2 separate regions of the Homo sapiens genome follow, and region 2 is linked to region 1. The links come from fine-mapping of genetic effects on gene expression. A gene starts in region 1. The other region holds a variant in brackets. All regions are shown on one strand. Distances are between the middles of the regions.

Region 1 (9,709 bases):
ACACAAAGAGTCAAATTTGTAAATTAGTTGATGAGATTTATTCTGAGCCAAATATGAGGACTTTGATTGATGACACAGCCCCATGAGGTCCTAAGAACTGCTGCATAAGGTGGTTGGGTTCTAGCTGGATTTTATGCATTTTAGGGGGACAGAAGTTACAGGCAGAAAATAAGAAAAGGGCAAGACGATCCCCTGCCACCTCCATGACGTCATTTCAGTTCTCTTCTCCAAACACCTCACAGTATCGTATTTCAAAATTCGGCTTTGTCATTTAGCAGTGTGTGGAGGTGTACATGTTGCCAATCGATACATGTAAGGTGTCCAGTGGTTTGGTCCAGAAAGGTGACACAACTCCATGGATGCAGGTGGAAGGTGTCCAGGTCACAGATGGATTCAACGATTTTCTGATGGGCAATTAATTGAAAGAGTTAAGTTATTATTGTAGAGACCTGGAATGAATAGAAAGGATTGTCTGGGTTACGATAAAGGTTGTGGAGACCAAGGTTTTTTATCTTCAGAGCTCTTATTGGACCTAAAAGAGGTGCCAGACTCTTAGTTAAATCTCTCCTAGATCAGGGAAAAGACCTGGAAAGGGAAGGGGATTCTGGCAGGATGTGGATTTTCCCCTCAAGAGACAGCCGTGTGGGGCCCCTTCAAAATATGTCAAAGAAATATATTCTGGGGTAAAATGCTTGATTTCTTCCAGGGCCTGCTCTCTATCATGTGATGCTATACTAGAGTCAGGTTGGAATGTAGTATCTTATTGCTACAGAGTCTGTTTTGTCAACCTTAAGATCTCTGCTTTGACGTTAATGCAGGTCAGCTGTGCCTGGATTTCAACGGAAGGCGGGTATAAGGAGCCTGTCCCACCCCCACTTCCCATCACGGTCTGAACTAGTCTCTAAGGTTTACTTTGGAAAGCTCGTGGCTAACGGGGTTGGCGGGGGACTAGAATTTTATTTTTGTTTTACAGTCTCAAAGGAATCGCGATAGGTGCAGGGGCCACTGCAGTGGGACTAGGCTCAACTCTGAGTGTAAGAAGAAAAACGGGAATGTACAGCCACGGAGAGGGTGAGAACGGACGGAAAACTATGAAGAGGCTACATCAGGCCAGGGGGGTTCTTGCTAGAACCACTTGGTAGGATTCGTGCCACAGGCAGGCCAGGTGATAAGATACCGAGGGTGAGGGATGAGGAGTATGATATCAGGGGCGGGGAACTGTCACTGCATTGACCCAGCAGGATTCTTTTGGACGAAAGGGGACAGGGGTCCAGGTCAGAGCCTTGAGGGCTTCGAGGACCCTGCCTGGAGTTAGGTCAGGTAGAGTCTTTGCCACATTGAGGCTGAGAAGCTGAGCAGCTGATCTGCGGGAGTCCAGAGACCCTCATGCTTCCTGCAGATGTGCTGTCAGCAGATCCTGAACTTGGGTTCCAGTGTTTTAAAGTGTTGTTTGCAAGCACCGCGGTCCTGCTCTCCCACTCACAGAACTACTATTGCTCACTGGTGAAGGACACTGGATTTAAAATCACAGACGTTCTTTTTCGCCTCTCGCTCATTATACATCCCTTTGAGGACACCGTCATTTTGCTGTTTAGGAGGAAGAAACAGGCAGAAGAGAACTCCTCCCATCCCTCCGCTAATGGCTTTTAAAACAGTCTTTTTTGTAATGGAACAACCAAACCTCACAATGAGCGTATATTGCTTGTGTGACCAGAAAGTAAGACAGTCCCCTGACACCTCAATTAAGTCATTTTGGTTGTCTACTCCAGACACCTCATGGCATCGTACTTCAAAATTCAGCTTTGTCATTTAGCAGTGTGTGGAGGTGCACACATTGCTAACCTCAGGCTCACTGAACACTGTTTTTTTTCTATGACGTGGATAATGGTGCCTGCGTCAGACACCTGTGATGTTTGAAAGAACCAGTTTATCAAAGTGCTTAGCCTGACGCCTGACACGCTGTGCACCCAAGATAAATGTTTGTTGTGTCATTCGATCTGTCGAGGAAGGAGGTGAGACACTTGTGGGTGGCAGGGCGGGAGGGGAGTACACAGGCTGTAAACAGCAGTGCCCAAGCTGAGACGGAGCAAGCTGGGAATCCGCCCGGGTTTCATTCAGTGTTCCACACCCCGCATGGATACTGGTTATACCTGTGATCAGTTATGCCTGTGATGGTTTTTTAGAAAACAAAACTATTTTATCACTCTGCTTTAAAGATGGCCGAGTGGAAAGACACAGTCCTGGAATGTTTAAATTCAAGCTGAAGAGCTTACTAGCCACGTGACTGAGCAAGTTATGGTTCCATCTTTCTAAGCCTCACTTCATTCTTTGTTAAGACAGGCCTCAGCATGCTGTTAGTAGGAATCTAAGGAACCCAGTGCTGATGGAGAAAGGGGTCCAGTCCAGACCCTAAGAGAGAGTTCTCGGATCTTGCGCAGGGAGGAACTCAAGGCAGTCGCAGAGTGCAGTGAGAGACAGCTGCTCTGATACAGAGTGGGGAGCCCGCGGAAAGCAGGAAGAAGAATGTGCCATCTTTGTTTCAAAGGCATCTTGTATCAATGTAAAAGCCAAGCTACGTGTAAGTGCAGGTGGGCTGGCAGTGTGACAAGATCTAGTACTTGGTGGATGTAAATAACGTTATCCTTGGCATTTCAGTGCGTAACTACATCTAAGCATGACTATAGCCATCTTTTTTTTTTTTTTTTTTTTTTTTTGAGATGGAGTCTTGCTCTGTTGCCCAGGCTGGAGTGCAGTGGCATGATCTCGGCTCACTGCAACCTCCGCCTCCCAGGTTCAGGCAATTCTCCTGCCTCAGCCTCCCACGTAGCTGGGATTACAGGCTACTGTAACTGCCAATCAGGTTCATGTTGCCTACACAGAGCTGATTTATCCAAACAGGTGAACTGCATAGAGAAAGAATAATCCACACAGAGCTGGCTGTGCGGGAGACCAGAGTTTTATTATTACTCAAATCAATTTCCCCAAGAATTCGGAGTTCAGAGTTTTTGCTGTTGTTTTTGAGATGGAGTCTTGCTCTGTTGCCCAGGCTGGAGTGCAGTGGTGCGATTTCAGCACACTGCAACCTCCGCCTTCAGGGTTCAAGCAATTCTCCTGCCTCAGGCTCCCAAGTAGTTGGCATTACAGGCGTGCACCACCACGCCTGGCTAATTTTTGTATTTTTAGTAGAGACGGGGTTTTGCCATGTTGGCCAGGCTGGTCTTGAACTTCTGACCTCAAGTGATCCGCCTGCCTCGGCCTCCCAGAGTCCTGGGATTACAGGTGTGAGCCACCGTGCCCAGCCCTGGAGTTCAGAGTTTTTAAGGATAATTTGGTAGGTAGGGGGCCAGTAAGCTGGGAGCACTGAGGGGTCAGATCAGAGATGAAATCGTATGGATCAAAGCTGTCCTCTTGGCCTGAGCCGGTTGCTGAGTGCGGGCCACAAGATCAGATGAGCCAGTTTATCCATCTGGATGGTCCCAGCTAATTCAGCAAGTGCAAGGTCTGCAAAATATCTCAAGCACTGTTGTTAGGTTTTTCAATAGTGATGTTATCCCCAGGAGCAATTTAGGGAGGGTCAGAATCTTGTAATCTCCAGCTGCATGAATTCTAAACCATAATTTCTAATCTTGTGGCTAATTTGTTAGTCCTACAAAGGCAGTCTAGTCTCCAGACAAGAAAAGGATTTGTTTCGGGAAACCATAAACTAAGTTTCTTCCAAAGTTAGTTTGGCCTACACCCAGGAATGAACAAGGACAGTTTGGAGGTTAAAAGTAGGATGGAGTTGGTTAGGTCAGATCTCTCACTGTCTCAGTTATAATTTTGCAATGGTGGTTTCACTGGTTTTAAGATGGAGTTTATTTTATTTTATTTTTATTTTTTTGAGACAGAGTTTCATTCTTGTTGCCCAGGCTAGAGTGCCATGGCGTGATCTCAGCTCACTGCAACCTCTGCCTCCTGGGTTCAAGCAATTCTGCTTCAGCCTCCTGAGTAGCTGAGATTACAGGTGCCCACCACCACACCCGGCTAATTTTTTTCTCCCAAACTGCTGGGATTACAGGCTTGAGCCACCGCGCCCGCCAAGATGGGTTGTTGATTTTAAAACGATGTCACCCTGGCTCTCCTAGGTTCCTGTTCCCCTAACATCATGAAGGCTGCTGGCAGTTCTCTGGCCTCCAGGGAGGCCTCCACACACATTTACCCATGTTCTTAGACAATCCTAGGGACTCAAGGCTTCAACAAACCTAAATGAGCCAGCAGAAAAATAAACTTGAACATGAATGTCAACGTTTTCCCACATGTACTAAAGGGTTATAATAATTTTGAAATGTTTATTTCAAAGAGCGTTGGTAATTTAAACGTCCTATTTAATCCCCAAAACAGTCCTGAGGGGGAGATAAGGCAGTTATCTTCATAGTACAGGAAAGGAAAAAAGCGAGGGTCCAAGGCCGACTATACCCTCAGCTCCATTAGCCCCCGAGGCCTCCCTGACAGGCGGGGCGGACAATCCCAGTGCAGATGCTCTGTATCGATCGCATGCTATCGGTTCTTTCAAGGAACGTGTATTGATCATCAATTAAGTGGTGAGTACTCCTCTAGATGTCGATTCTAAAGAGGGAACAAAACACATTAGACAGAAGAAACATAAGTAACTCGAATAACAACCTTAGAGAGAAGAAACATAAGTAACTCGAATAACAACCTTAGCAAACTGCGGAAACTCCTACAGACAAAAACTCAGGTGTGGGCGCAGAAGGGCCGGGGATGCGCTCGGTCAAGACTTGAAGGTCCGGGGCTTGGGCCCTGTGTCCTCACCGAGCCCCGGGGAGGCTCCGGCTCCGTCCACACCCGGAGCGCGACTCAGCCGCGGCCGGGGCTCTTCTGGAGAACGGCGCGGTCAGGCTCTGCCGCAGCTTTCAGGTCCCCTCGGCCCCGTCCGGGTGCAGCGCAACCAGGCTGCCCGCGGAGCCCCACCGCCCCCATGCCGCCGCCCGCCATGGTTCAGCCCGGCCCCGCCCCTCCCGCCGGCCGTGGTTCAGCGCGTCCACCCCGCCGCCCCACAGCGCCCGCCGCGCCGCGCCCCGCCCCCCGCCGCGCCCCGCCCCCCGCCGCGCCCCGCCCCCCGCCGCGCCCCGCCCCCCGCCGCGCCCCGCCCCCCGCCGCGCCCCGCCCCCCGCCGCGCCCCGCCCCCCGCCGCGCCCCGCCCCCCGCCGCGCCCCGCCCCCCGCCGCGCCCCGCCCCCCGCCGCGCCCCGCCCCCCGCCGCGCCCCGCCCCCCGCCGCGCCCCGCCCCCCGCGCCGCGCCCCGCCCCCCGCCGCGCCCCTCCCGCGCCCGCCGCCCCGCCCCTCCCGCGCCCGCCGCCGTCGTAGCGCCTAGGCGGGGCCTCTCGTAGCGACGCCCCCAGGGGGGCAGAACGCGTGCGCACGCGCGTGCGAACGCGCGTGCGCGGGCGGTGTTTGAGGCCGGCCAGTCGTGACTGGGCGGCAATGAGGTCAGTGACTGCCGGGAGTCCTGCAGGGGCGGGGCGGCGCCAAGCGCAGGGAGCCCGGCTGAGTGGCAGCCCAGGTGAGCGCTCAGGGAGCCCGGGTGAGGGCCGGGAACCCAGGTGAGGGGCAGCCCAGGTGAGCGCGCGGGGTGCCCGGGTTAGGGGCCGGGAACCCAGGTGAGGGGCAGCCCAGGTGAGCGCGCGTGGAGCCCAGGCGAGGGGGCTGGGAAGCCCGGGTGAGGGGACCGGGGATCCCAGGTGAGGGGCCGGGAACTCAGCTGAGGGGGAACCCAGATGGGCGCGCGGGAGCCCACGTGAGGGGGAGCCCGGGTGAGGGGCCGGGGTGGCTCCTGGCGTCCGCGGTCCCAGCCCTGCCTTCCGGTGGGCGTGCGGCACCCCGGGCCGTGCGGTTCCCGGACAGCAGCTTGTGGGGGACTTTCGAGCCCCGCAGCCCGGGGTCCTGCCTGCGCGGGTTGGGCGTGGGGGGCTCCTCACCGCGACGCTGACTTTGGAGTCCTTGAGCGGCGCGGATGCCGGACGGAGGGAGGGGACAGGCGGAGGCGGAGGCGGCGCCGTCGCCCCTGACCTCGCTTCCCTCAGACCGGCTGGGCAAGTACGGTCAGCTCACCTGTGTGCCCACGAGGCGGGGAGGCGGCTCCTGCAGAGCCACAGAGGTGCCGTCGGAGCTGCTGTCAAGGACAGCAGGTGTCACGTGGGTGTGGCCTCCACTGGTCACCGAGTTAGCTGGGGCGGAAGGGGACAAGGTGCAGCTCAACATGGTGTGGGAGGCGGAGGGACGCTGGGTCAGTCAGAACCTGTAGGAGCGGGGAGGGACGCTGGGTAAGGTCACCAAAGTGTGCGGGGGAGAGAGCGGGCGCTGGGTCAGGTCAGCAGGAGGTGGGACCCGCCTGGGCTCTGGGCCCTATAGCCAGCTGCTCTAGGTTGGGGTTGGGTGTGGACAGTAGGGAGGGGAGCCAGGGGCTCCCCAGCCTGTGTAGATTCTGCTGTAAGTGACTCTTCTCTGAAAGACTGGCGCGAGGCGGCTGCTTCTGACTCCTGTTTCAGTTTACCCTCTGTGTGAAATCTGTAACTATCCAGCTTCTGCTTACCTCACTCCCGTATTTTGATTTTTATTTACATACAACTTTTCAGGAAGGTTGTGAGAGGAAAGAGCAATGGTGCAGGAAGTGTGAGTGATTGAGGGAATATGAGATGGCCACAGCTCCCCACTGAGCTTGAACACTTCTGTGCCTCACTTTCAGATTGGCCGTCATGGAGGCTGTGGTTGTTAAGGAAGTTCTTCCTGAGCATCCAGTTTCCATACAAAGAGCACAGGTTCTCTAGGTGGCCTCAGAGATGTTCAATACACAATGTCTTCTGATAACGAGGAACTGGGCAAAAGCCTGGTAGGACACCGGGTAGGTAAATGGTGGAGTCCCTGCAACCGTGTTGCAGAGGAGGATTAGCTGTTGCTGAGAGAAGAGAAGCAGGCCGGGGAGCAGCTTGTATACTGTTATCCCCTTTTATGTAAAAAGAAGAGTTTATATCTAGAAAAACAATTGACCCAGCAGGCACCAAAAAATAGTGATGGTGCTTGGAGCTGTGTAAGAGGATTGTAAATTTTTATTTTTGTATTTTTATGCTTGTTTATATTTTCTGAATTTTGTGTATTAAACATGTATTTCTGTTGATTTTGGAAAACATTTTTACAACCCATCAATGTATAATTTTCAAAATGTTAGAAGTATAATTCTCATGTAAATAGCTCTTGTCAGGTTATATTTCAGTCATTAATGCAGTATACAGCAGGATAGGAATGTCAGTTCAAAAGAGAATACACAAAACTAGGATTTTCTTAGTGAGTGGGTAACAGGAATGCTGAGAGAAGATTGCCAGATTAGATAATAAGATTGGTGAATATCCTGTGTGCATTGAAACCACAGCCTTTGGGATTGTCTTTTCTTCTTGATGGAAAGGAGAATTAGCTTTGCAGATTGTAAAATGCGTGACCCACAATCAGTGGTAAATAGTTTAGTTATTTCTCCTAGAAAGTCAAGTGATTGTTGGGGTTGTAAAACACTGAACTTGCGTTAGCAGGGAAAAAAGCATGCAACCTTTTTTTTCCCTTTTGACGTCACTTCCAAGTTTGGATAAATTATCTCAATGAAAAACAAAAATGCTGGTATCCATAGCAGTTTAGCCCCCATAAACCGGAGGAGCGCATAGATGCATGACAGAGTCGAAGGGTTCCAGTGGCCACTGAGCCTGGTTCCTGGTCACACTGCAGCAACAGAGCTAACACTCTTACTGATGTGTTTGCATTCAGATTTTTAAAAAACTTCATGGCCCAGTGCAATAGAAGAGCTGAAACCACAGAATCTTATAAGACAAGCTTTTTGTATACATTTTCTCCAAAGAAAATGAAGATCTGCAGCGTCAAGAGATGGTGGCCTTCCAGGAGTTGTTTATTCTCCGGCTCCACTTCCTCTACTGCAGAGAGGAAAGGGGCTGGTGTGGAAGGGCTTGGAAGCCTTCCAGAATGAAAGAACCAGATGAGTCCATTAGGTTCGGCCTCCAGTTTTTTGTTTTTTTTTTTTTTTTTGAGACGGAGCCTCACTCTGTCACCCAGGCTGGAGTGCAGTGGCGCTATCTCAGCTCACTGCACGTTCCGCCTTCCAGGTTCCCGCCATTCTCCTGCCTCAGCCTCCCGAGTAGCTGGGACTACAGGCGCTCGCCATCACGCCTGGCTATTTTTTTTTTGTATTTTAGTAGAGACAAGGTTTCACCATGTTAGCCAGGATGGTCTCGATCTCCTGACCTCGTGATCCTCCCACCTTGGGCTCCCAAAGTGCTGGGATTACAGGTGTGAGCCACCCTGCCCGGCCGATTCGGCCTCCAGTTTTACCCATGGAAGGAACAGTGACTTCCAGCTGTGCATTACACTTAAGGACTCCTTCATGTGGCCTGAGCCTTATGGTGCACAGCAAGGGAACAGTGGGAACCCCTGTGTCCCATTTTGCGTATCAAGAGTGAGAGGGTGTGGTTGGGTCAAGGAGCAGAAATAGAAGCAAAAGGAGAAGCTGAGCTCTTCCCATACCCCTTCTGTGCTGCCTGACAGAACAAGGCCTAGCCACACTTCTGTGGGTGCCCACCTTGTGACTTGGGGTGAACCACAGCTGTTCTCAGTACAACGCTGATGCCACGAAAGGACAGCAGAGCTCTGCAGGACTCCAGGAAGACTGGGCGCTTGGGCTGGATCCTGCCTCTGGGACTGGCCTTCTACCCTCATGGCTGAGAGAGCTGAGGAGTTCACCTCCTTTGTGAACTCCTGGCTGGAGGATGCTGGTTGGCATTAACTAAACTCAGAGACCCACAGTAACGAGTTAGACTAGAACAGCACCAGCTTACCCAGAAAGTCAGGAGGTTTGAGCAAAGAATCAGAATGGGGGATTCACTACAGGACTGGAAGGGGAAGTAAGCATTCTGGTCTTTATAATCTGCTGTTTCTGCATCCCTAATTGGCACCTGTTCTCTGACTGCCAGGAGGGTTTGCCCACTCAGCTGTGGCTTACCTGTTTCTGTTTCCATGTCTTTCACCTATCTGCCACTTTTCTGTAGATATGGTAATCTCTCCAAAAAGATATCTAGAAAGCTTGAAGACCTGGTAGCTATTTGCTCTTATGGTGAAGATCACACAAACTAGTTGAACATCTGGCTTGTAGTAGGTGCTTCATTTCCCGCTGCTCTGTATGTTTCTTTCTTTTTTTTTTTTTTTTTTTTTTTTGAGACGGGGTCTCATCTTGTCACCCAGGCTGGAGTGCAGTGGCGCAATCTCAGCTCACTGCCACCTCCACCTCCCGGGTTCAAGCGATTCTCCTGCCTCAGCCTCCCAAGTAGCTGGGATCACAGGCATGTACCACCACGCCCAGCTAATTTTTTGTATCTCTAATAGAGTCGAGGTTTGACCATGTTGGCCAGGCTGGTCTCGAACTTCTGACCTTGTGATGCACCTGCCTTGGCATCCCAAAGTGCTGGGATTACAGGCGTGCGCCACTGCACTCGGCCTGCTCTGTGTATTTCTTTTTCCTGTAGTCAGATTCTGGGGTCCAGGGTGGTTAGGAAAGAAACTTGTTTTCTTTCTTTCTTTTTTTTTTTGAGATGGAGTTTTGCTCTGTTGCCCAGGTTGAAGTGCAGTTGTGTGATCTCGGCTCACTGCAACCTCCACCC
Region 2 (9,709 bases), 20 kb before region 1:
CCTGCCATGAGTAACAGAAATTGCTTCCTGAAGATAATACATCCAGATCCTCAAATCATTTCTACAACCTTTAATAGGCAACAGCAACATTCAACCAAAACTTACCTGACAGAGATAAGACAAGAAAGAAATTACCGACAGCCAAGAAAAACAGGCAATAGGAAGAGATCGCGGGAATTTCAGGGGCTGGAGTTATGAGATGCGTCCTCTAAAAAACATGGGGTTACTCCATCCAAGTACTGAAGTGAGCCGATGGAGAATTTCACCAGAAAAGTGAAAATTATAATAATAAAAGAATCAAGTAGAAGTTTTAGAAATGTGAAATGTGATACGGAAAATAAGAACTCTAACGTGGACTGTAGGCAGCAAAGGAGGGGACGGGAAAAGTGGGCGAGTCCTCCGAAGCATTTGCACAGCCAGGACAGGTGGAGAACGGAGGAGGGAAATGGGCAGGGGGCACAAGAGACCAGGGCGCTCAGGACGGGGGAGCAGGTCCTCTGTGCACACACAGCCCCAGAAGAGAAGAGAGAATGGGGCAAAAGAATCATAAAGGAGGTGAGAACCAATGATTATTTTTATTTATTTATTTATTTTATTTATTTATTTATTTTTGAGACAGAGTCTCAATCTGTCACCCGGGCTGGAGTGCAGTGGCGCGATGTTGGCTCACTGCAACCTCTGCCTCTGGGGTTCAAGTGATTCTCCCACCTCGGCCTCTTGAGGAGCTGGGACTATAGGCGCCCACCACCATGCCCAGCTAATTTTTGTATTTTTAGTAGAGATAGGTTTTCACTGTGTTGGCCATGCCAGTCTTGAACTCCTGACCTTAGGTGATCCACCTGCCTCGGCCTCCCAGAGTGATGGGATTACAGGAGTGAGCCACCATGCCCGGCCCAATGATTTTTTTTTTTTTTCTGAGACGGAGTCTTGCTCTGTCACCCAGGCTGGAGTGCAGTGGTGCAATCTCAGCTCACTGCAACATCCACCTCCTGAGTTCAAGCAATTCTCCTGCCTCAGCCTCCCGAGTAGCTGGGATTACAGGCACCCGCCACCACACCCAGCTATTTTTTCTATTTTTAGTAGAGACCGGGTTTCACCATGTTGGCCAGGCTGGTCTCGAACTCCTGACCTTGTGATCTGCCCACCTCAGCCTCCCAAACTGCTGGGATTACAGGATGGTTTTTAATAACCAATCAAAGTCAAGTTAAACTCCAGCAGAAACAGATGAGTTTCCTGATGGTTGTGCACAGGCTTCGGACCCAAGGCAAGGTCTTCCTGTCTCGAGGCCTTCTGCCATCATCCTGCCTCCCCAGACATACCCCAGTGATATCGTTTGGATGTTTGACACCCCCAAAACCTCAGGCTGACATTGGATCGCCAGTGTTGGTGCCGGCCTAGTGGGAGGTGTCTGGTCACTGGTGTGGTGGGAGGCGTCTGGGTCACTGGTGTGATGGGAGGTGTCTGGGTCACTGGTGTGGTGGGAGGTGTCTGGTCATTGTGGTAGGAGGTGTCTGGTCACCGGTGTGGTGGGAGGTGTCTGGTCACCGGTGTGGTGGGAGGTGTGTGGTCACTGGTGTGGTGGGAGGTGTGTGGTCACTGGTGTGGTGGGAGGTGTCTGGTCATTGTTGTGGTGGGAGGTGTCTGGTCACTGGTGTGGCCCCTACATAAATGTCTTGGTGCCATCCTCACTCTATTTGTCTCATTTCATTAGCTCTCGCGAGATCTGATTGTTAAAAAGAGCCTGGCAGCTCCTTTCCTCTCTCTCTGTCCCTCTTTATGGCTTTTTTCCTCTTGGCATGTGATGCCTGCTCCGCTTCCCATTCCGCCATGACGCCACGAGCAGAATGATTTCTCACATTTTTTTTTTTTTTTTGAGACGGAGTCTAGTTCTGTCACCCAAGCTGGAGTGCAGTGGTGTGATCTTGGATCACTGCAACCTCTGCCTTCTGGGTTCAAGCGATTCTCCTGCCTCAGCCTCCCGAGTAGCTGGGATTACATGTGCCTGCCATTACGCCCAGCTAATTTTTGTATTTTTAATAGAGGCGGGGTTTCACCAATGTTGGGAAGGCTGGTCTCGATCTCCTGACCTCAGGTGATCCGCCCCCCTCAACCTCCCAAAGTGCTAGGATTACAGGCATGAGCCACTGCGCCCGGCCAATTTCTAATATTTCGGAGGCCTCACCAGTCGCAGATGCTGGCACCATGCTCCCTGTGAAGGCTGCAGAGAGGTGAGCCAAACACACCTCTTTTCTTTATAAATTACTCAGCTTCAGGTAGTCCTTGATAGCAAAACAAATGGACTAAGACACTCATCCTAACTCAGACCCCAGCTTCCCCATGAAGCTGTCAGCAAGACAGCAGCTATGCTCCCCTCCTCCCTCCAGAGTCTGATGGCCTCAGTCCCAGCACGTAGTTCAACCTCCAACTTGACTCTGCCTACCTCATGCAAATGAGCCTATCTCTTTATTCTTCAGGATCCAAAATGGCAACTCCCTGAAGCCAGAGAACCCATCAGAACTTAAAAGTAGACAATTTTTTTAGAGCAGTTTTTGGCTCACAGTAAAATGCACAGAAGGTACAGACACCTGCCATTCGCTGCCTGTCCCCTCTCCCCTGCACGCATAGCCACCCCCCACCAGCAAGTGTGGTGCATTTGTTACCATTGGTGAACCCACATGGACACGTCTTCATTGCCTGGAGTCCGTGGTTTACACGAGGGCTCGCTCTAGGTGTTGTTCATCCTCTGGGTCTGCACAGATGTACACTGACTCTTATCCACCATGACAGTGCCATGCAGAGTAGCTTCACTGCCCTGAAGATCCTCTGTGCAGTGTAACTTCATCACCGTTAGGAAGAAAACAATCTCTTTTAACATCACGTGTGAATAAGACAGATGATGTCCCAGCCCACCATGGGGCTTCCCATTCTTGTGAGGTGGGAAGGGCAGGACAGAAAATAAACAGTCCACAAAGAGATAAAAATAATTATCATGTCATTTTTATGACATGATAGATCATTCTATCATGAATGTTTAAGATCATTCAATGAGTGAAATGCAAGGACATGAGCGAGTAAGAGAGGGAGGCAGGCCCGACAGGTAGTGGCGTCCCAGGTGGTAGCTCCTCCTCGGAGCCCAGCCAGAGTTGAGACCTGAAGGATGAGGAGGACTTGGTCCTTGGACAATAGAAGAAATAAAGACCCAGGTAGAGAGGCAAAAGCAAATGTGAAGGCCCAGAAGCTTGAAAAGGCTGAGCCTGTCCTGGGAGTTATCAGAGGCACAGTCTGATCAGAGTGGAGTCAATAAGGAGTGGTGGTGAGACCCACGTTGGGTAAGGACAGAGACGTCCCATGCTTGACTCCTTGGACATGTGACCTCAGCTTCCTTAGCTGTAAAACGTGACAGGTGGCCAGGCGCGTTGGCTCATGCCTGTAATCCCAGCACTTTCGGGAGGCCGAGGCGGGTGGATCACGAGGTCAGGAGATCAAGACCATCCTGTCTAACACTGTGAAACCCCGTCTCTACTAAAAATTCAAAAAATTAGCCAGGCGTGGTGGCACGCAGCTGTAGTCCCAGCTACTAGGGAGGCTGAGGCAGGAGAATCGCTTGAACCCGAGAGGCGGAGCTTGCAATGAGCAGAGATCACACCACTGCACTCCAGCCTGGGCAAGAAAGCGAGACTCCGTCTCAAAAAAAAACAAAACAACAACAACAAAAAACACAAAACAAAATATGACAGGTGCCACTTGCTGTTGTGGAGGACATCCAGATGCTGTGAGTGATAAAGAAATGCGTGATGGCAGAATCTTTGTTTCCAAGAGTTTATAATTTGGTGGAAATAAAGTGGAGAAGCAGGAAGACCTACACAGTGGACTGGCAGAGCAGCAGAGTCCCTTGACCGTGCTGCAGGGCATTTCAAAGAGGACGGCAACGGGAGGTAAAAGAGGACGGCGAGGGGAGGAGGTGTCTGCTCCCAGGGAAACCTCCCCTGGGTGTTTGGCGATGTCTTCCCCACGTTCACATGATAACCTTTATCTGTCATGAGCAGGTGAAGGTTCAGATAAACACACAAACAGTGATCCTGTCAACATTCTTGTGCATGACCTTGTGTGCAATATGTTTGCATTTCTGCTGGTCGTGGGGAATCACAGTGTCGCCATGGAAGCTTCAGTTCAGTTTCAGTGGTTATTGGTCCAGGGTCAATGCAAAAATGTTACTTCCCCCCAGGGGTGCGCAAGTGAGTTCAGTTTCCACACAGTAGTGTGTGAGTGAGTTCAGGCCCCGCCGTGGTGTGTGAGTTCAGTCCCCTCAGTGCTGTGTGAGTGAGTTCAGTCCCCCCATGGTGTGTGAGTGAGTTCAGTTCTCCTCAGCAGTGTGTGAGTTCAGTTCCCACCAACAGTGTCTGAGTTCAGTTTCTCTGTATCCACACTGATTCCTGCTCCTCTTTCCTGACTTTGCTGTCCTGGCGGCTATGTAGTGATATCTCACTGTGGTTGTAAGCAGCAGCCACTGATGAATAACACAGGGGAGCATCCGTTGAGTAGCCATTTTGATCTTTTCTTTGGTACAGTGCTTGTTCAGGTCTTTTGCCCATTTCTCTATTTAAATCGCTTGTTTTTTCTAATTGATTTGTAGGAATTTCTTGCATGCTCTAAACTCAGGGGTCAAGGCTGTGGTCTGGTGTTGGTGTGGGTGTTGCACTCCTGCTGTCCCAGTCCCAGGTACTTGGGAGGCTGAGATAGGAGGATCGCTTGAGCCTGGGACGTCAGGGCTGCAGTGAGCCGAGGTTGCACCAGTGCACTCCAGCCTGGGTGACAGAGTGAGATCCTGTCTCAAAAATAATAAAATAAAATAAAATAAAATAAAATAAAATAAAAATAGTCAGGGATCAGCAAACTTTTCCAGTAATGAGCCAGAAAGTTAACCTTTTAGGCTTTGTGAGCCATGTGGTCTCTGTGGGACCTTTTCTCCTGCTGTCACGTAAAACAGCTGCAGACAATACTAAACCCATGAGCCTGGTGCTGTTCAGTTTATCTTATTTTGATGGACTTGAAAACGTGAACAGCATATCATTTTTACATGTCACAAAACATCATTCTCCTTCTACATTTTTGAACCATTAAAAAAAAATAAAATTCATGGTTAGCTTACAGAGAATACAAAATAAATGGATGGTGGACCTGATTTGGCCTGAGGGCCTTGTTTTGCCAGCCCTGCTCTAGATGAAGATCCTGGGTCAGTTACACACCTGGCAATAGCTTCCCTCAGGTTCCTAATGTTTTCCTTTGAGAAAT[G/T]AAAGTGTTTTCCTTGGATGCAGCCCTGGTTCTCCTTCTTCCTTCGGGCAGGTGGCTGGTTTGGACTGGAAGGAAAGTGCATCTCCCCTGCTCTTTAGTGTCCTCTGGAGGGATAGGAGCACCCACAGATCTGCAATGATGGGTGCCAGCCGCCCCCGGCGGGGGAATGAGTGCTCACTATGAGGCAAGTGACCACCACGAGCAGGAAGGTCCCTCCCACTGAGGGACGGCTTGTGCAGTCCTGGCCTGGGGGCTGATCTCCACCATGGTTCCAATCTCCTCCTGCTATGCCTTTGCCATTTTCAGAGCTTATTCTCTTTCTCTGCTCTGAACAAATAGGCAGCCTAAAACTACAACCTTTAAAACTCTCCCATAAAGAAACCTGTGGCGTTGATGAATGTAGGGGGGGCTTCCCACTAGGAGGGGATGAGCGGGGCTTGATGTTTCCGCAGATGTCTGTGCCCGCACTGGCGACTCCGATACTCCAATGCAGGTTCATCAACTGTAACACACGGACCAGTCACGGCGTTGGCCGTTCTCTGGTTTGGGCACATGTAGAATGACACGTACCCACCATTACAGTGTCACTGCCTAAAATTCCTTCGTGCAGCATCCCTTTTCCGCTGGTAGGGGGGAAGCAACCTCTTTGAGCCTCACGGTGTGAATAAACACAGATGATCGTCCTGTAGAAAATAGCTGCTCCTTCATTTCCACCTTCCAAATTTCTGCAAATCTCTCTTTCCTCCAACAGGACGTTGGAACCATTCAGGGAAGGGAACTTTGAGAAACACAGATTAGCTAAGAGAACGCGGTACAGAGCCACTCAGAGAGAAGACAAATGCGTCATCACGACAAAGGCTCGACGCTGATAGGGTCAAGGCCCTTCTAGTGACAGAAGAGAGAGGGGAGAGCCAGCGGAAGGAGCCGCGTGCCTGGCGGGAGGCTCCTTGAGGACGAGAGAAGATGAAAACTCGGGAAGGCAGCTCCCTAGGCAGGTCTTCCGTGATATGCAGGAACTATCCCGGCTGGGAATGTGACGGTGAGACGTGACACCGCGAAGGATGGCAGCACGTGCACAAATAAGGGGTGAAGGTCAAGGGTGAGGTCTGGAAACGGGCTGGCGTGGCCGGGAGGGGGACTTCCTGGAGGAAGGTGCAGGGCAGGAAATGGGAGCAGGGCCCCTGGATGGGGCCGGATCCGAGGGGAGGGCAGGCACCTAAACACTTCGAGTACCCAATGGCGTGCCGCATGACACTTGCTATGACCTTGGCATCAACACGGGACCCGGCTCGTGATGGGCAAACTGCACGAGGATAAAAACGTTCCCCTGAGATGTTAGGAGAAAAAAAAAATTGGCCGGGCGTGGTGGCTCACACCTGTAATCCCAGCACTTTTGGAGGCCGAGGCTGGTGGATCACCTGAGGTCAGGAGTTTGAGACAGCCTGGCCAACATGAGGAAACCCCGTTTCTACTAAAAATACAAAAATCAGCCAGGCATGATGGCACACACCTGTAATCCCAGCTACTCGGGAGGCTGAGGTACAAGAATTGCTTCACCCCGGGAGGCAGAGGTTGCAGTGAGCCGAGATCACACCATTGCACTCCAGCCTGGGCGATGAGAGCAAAACTCCGTCTCAAAAAAAAAAAAAAAAAGAAAAAGCGGAAAAAAAGTCACAAGAACAGCTAAACAGCTCTATGTGGCCCTGAGCCTGGCACTCCGGTAGCACTTGGTGAACGCTGGATGAATGTAGCACTTGGTGAATGCTAGATGAATGGCTTAATGAGTCAGCAAAGGAAGCTCACCAGTTCTTCTTTTCCATGATGAAAAGGTAGTTTCCCCATATGACCATAGGCTCTCAATGGGCAGGGAGCGATGGAGACAGCTCAGCCTTTGATTCTAGTCCTTACATGGAAGACAGCGTATTGCAGAGACTCAGCCACAAAGAGAACTGAATACGGTGTCTGAAATTCTCCTTCTCCTGAATTGTCAATGTTGGTGTCTTTTCGCTTCTGAACAGCATTCCGTGAGAGAACCACGACCCTGGCCCAAACGTGTAGGCTGTGGCTGGCTGTTTTGTTTTGTCGTGGTTTGTCTGGATGCACAAAAATGCTTAAGCTTTAAGTCTCTGATAGTTTACATTTTGTGATGTAAGAACAAGAAAAAAAAACTTCCTCCAACCTAATGCTCTCTGCAAACCAGAAACAAAGTAAACAAGCAAAACCTGCTCTGCTCAGCTTCCGTAATTCCAAATGTTTTATAAGGGTGACTGCAGCATTGGCGGCTTGCTATCTCCAGACTGTGGGCTGTCCCTCACAGCCAGGCCATGACTCAGTCACCTCTTGCTCTCTCGGGGTGTCTGCCCAATGGATTTGTCACAGAATCAGAGGCCCAGTGAGTGACCAAGGCTTGCCTGAGCAGGATATGAAAGCCGCGCTGCTAGAATCTAAGCTGGACCGCAGCATAGGCCACGCGCTTTCCATCCTACCTGCCCTGTAACGTGACTGACGTTAGCTGCGGTGGGGCGAGGAGCGCCGTCTTGTGTCCTGAGTTTGATCACCTCGTCAGACCACAAGTTGGAGGTGTGGGTTTCTGAAGTGACAACATCCTCACTGAAATTCTGCCCATGCACTTTCTCTTCTCATTTTGTTTCCACCCACCGTGACCTTTTTCCTCTTTTTCCACCCCAAAGGAAGAGAAATGTCAAGAAAATAACACTACAGAGCACATATGGAGGAAAGGCAGACAGTGCAAAGATTGCAATAACTGTGTTCCTCCAAGTTATAAGATGTGGAAATAAGACAAGTGATGGGTCCCACGTCCAACGTGGCTCGGCTAGAAGGTGCTTTCTGCTTTAATATGTGGGGATTTCTGGCTGTCTCTGGACTGTGCCCAACAATAAGCCCTAAAAAGTGAACCCTGATTCAGCTGTGAGGGCCTGAGGTCCAGCAGCTCTGCACTGTGGCTCTCTGGCCCCACCCACCCCAGCTTGTGACTGGTGAGTCACCCAGCCCAGCAGACACCATCGTGCCCTCTGCAGATGCACAAGCTGCTTCCTGCCTTGCTTTCCTCCCAGAGCTGTTTGCCATAAATGACCACACGTGTAAGAAAGCACATTGCATACTTCTAACATTCGGTGTGAGCACCACGTGTACACATAAACAAGTATCCGTGCGTTTATCTACAAAATAGAAGTAGTCCAAGGATATGGTACAGCTGTTAAAAGGCTTGACAAAATTGAAACACAGTAATGGTGCTTCTGAAGTTTGCCAAATTTCTATGATGATGAAAAAGCTTTTATCCCAGATACAAAACCTTTGTTCTCAGCATCATCTAGTGACAAGTCGATGGGACTAGGCATTAAGAGATGGGATGTGGATTAAGTAGGATCACTGGGTTTTGGTGAAAGACACCGTTATGAGTTGAATTATACCCCATTCAAAAAAAAAAGGTATGTTGGAGACCTAACCACCCCCCATACCTGGAAATGTGACTTTATTTGGAAATAGGGTCTTGTCTATTTCCAAAGAGGGAATGAAATTAAATCAAATTCAGATAAGGTCATGAGGGAGGATCCTAATTGAATACAGTCAGTGTTCTTATAAAAAGGGGAAACTGGGACACAGAGAGACACACACAGAGGAAGGACACCACGTGAGGACTGGAGCTCCACCACCGAGCCGAGGAGCCACTCAGCCCAGGGGCCACCCAGCCGAGGGGCCACCGGAGGCCAGATCCAGGCCCAGCTGGGACAGACCCTCCCCTGGAGCCTTCAGGGGAGCTCAACCCTGCGGACACCGGGATCTCCGACTTCTGGCTTGGGAGAGAAGACCGTCCTATTGTTTGTGGCACTTTGTTATGGCAGCCCTAACAAACTGATACAGACCCTAAAGCGAGAGGGGTGAACACAGTTCTGACTTTGAAGGCACCAAAGCCCACGTTTGCATTCCAGTTCTGATGCTTATTGATGGTGGCACCACCTGATTTCTCTGAGCTTATTTTCTTTTCATTTATTTATTTTTGAGAGGGAGTCTCACTCTGTCGCCCAGGCTGGAGTGGAGTGGCATGATCTCAGCTCACTGCAGCCTCTGCCTGCTGGGTTCAAGCGATTCTCCTGCCTCAGCCTCCTGAGTAGCTGGGAGTACAGGCACCCGCCACCATGCCCAGCTATTTTTTTTTTTGTATTTTTAATAGAGACAGGGTTTCACCATGTTGGCCAGGCTGGACTCGAACTCCTGACCTCAGGTGATCCACCTGCCTCAGCCTCCCAAAGTGCTGGGATTACCAGTGTGAGCCACTGCAACCTGGCTTTATTTTCTTTGTAAAAAGACATGTGTATCTATCTGAACACACAGATTACAGATACAGATGTGGACATAGATGTAGCTATGGACATAGATGTATATAGATATAGATATA

What was found. PIP is the estimated chance that this variant, and not a neighbour inherited with it, causes the effect.
Region 2: its variant is the best candidate, but not a certain one, in a credible set for the expression of CLN8 in whole blood (TOPMed, PIP 0.85).

The regions. Positions count from the first base shown.
Region 1 is chr8:1,758,324-1,768,032 of GRCh38, forward strand. CLN8 (CLN8 transmembrane ER and ERGIC protein) reads left to right here and starts at 5,466. Exons shown (of 3, transcript NM_018941.4): 1 at 5,466-5,562. It overlaps CLN8-AS1 (CLN8 antisense RNA 1), which reads right to left and starts at 6,261. Exons shown (of 2, transcript NR_134303.1): 1 at 6,111-6,261; 2 at 3,640-4,605.
Region 2 is chr8:1,738,028-1,747,736 of GRCh38, forward strand. LOC105377778 (a long non-coding RNA gene) reads right to left here. Exons shown (of 4, transcript XR_007060784.1): 4 at 4,792-4,825. Among named protein-coding and RNA genes, the nearest start is that of CLN8, 21 kb to the right of the region's middle. The variant G/T (reference allele first, on the strand shown) is at 5,293.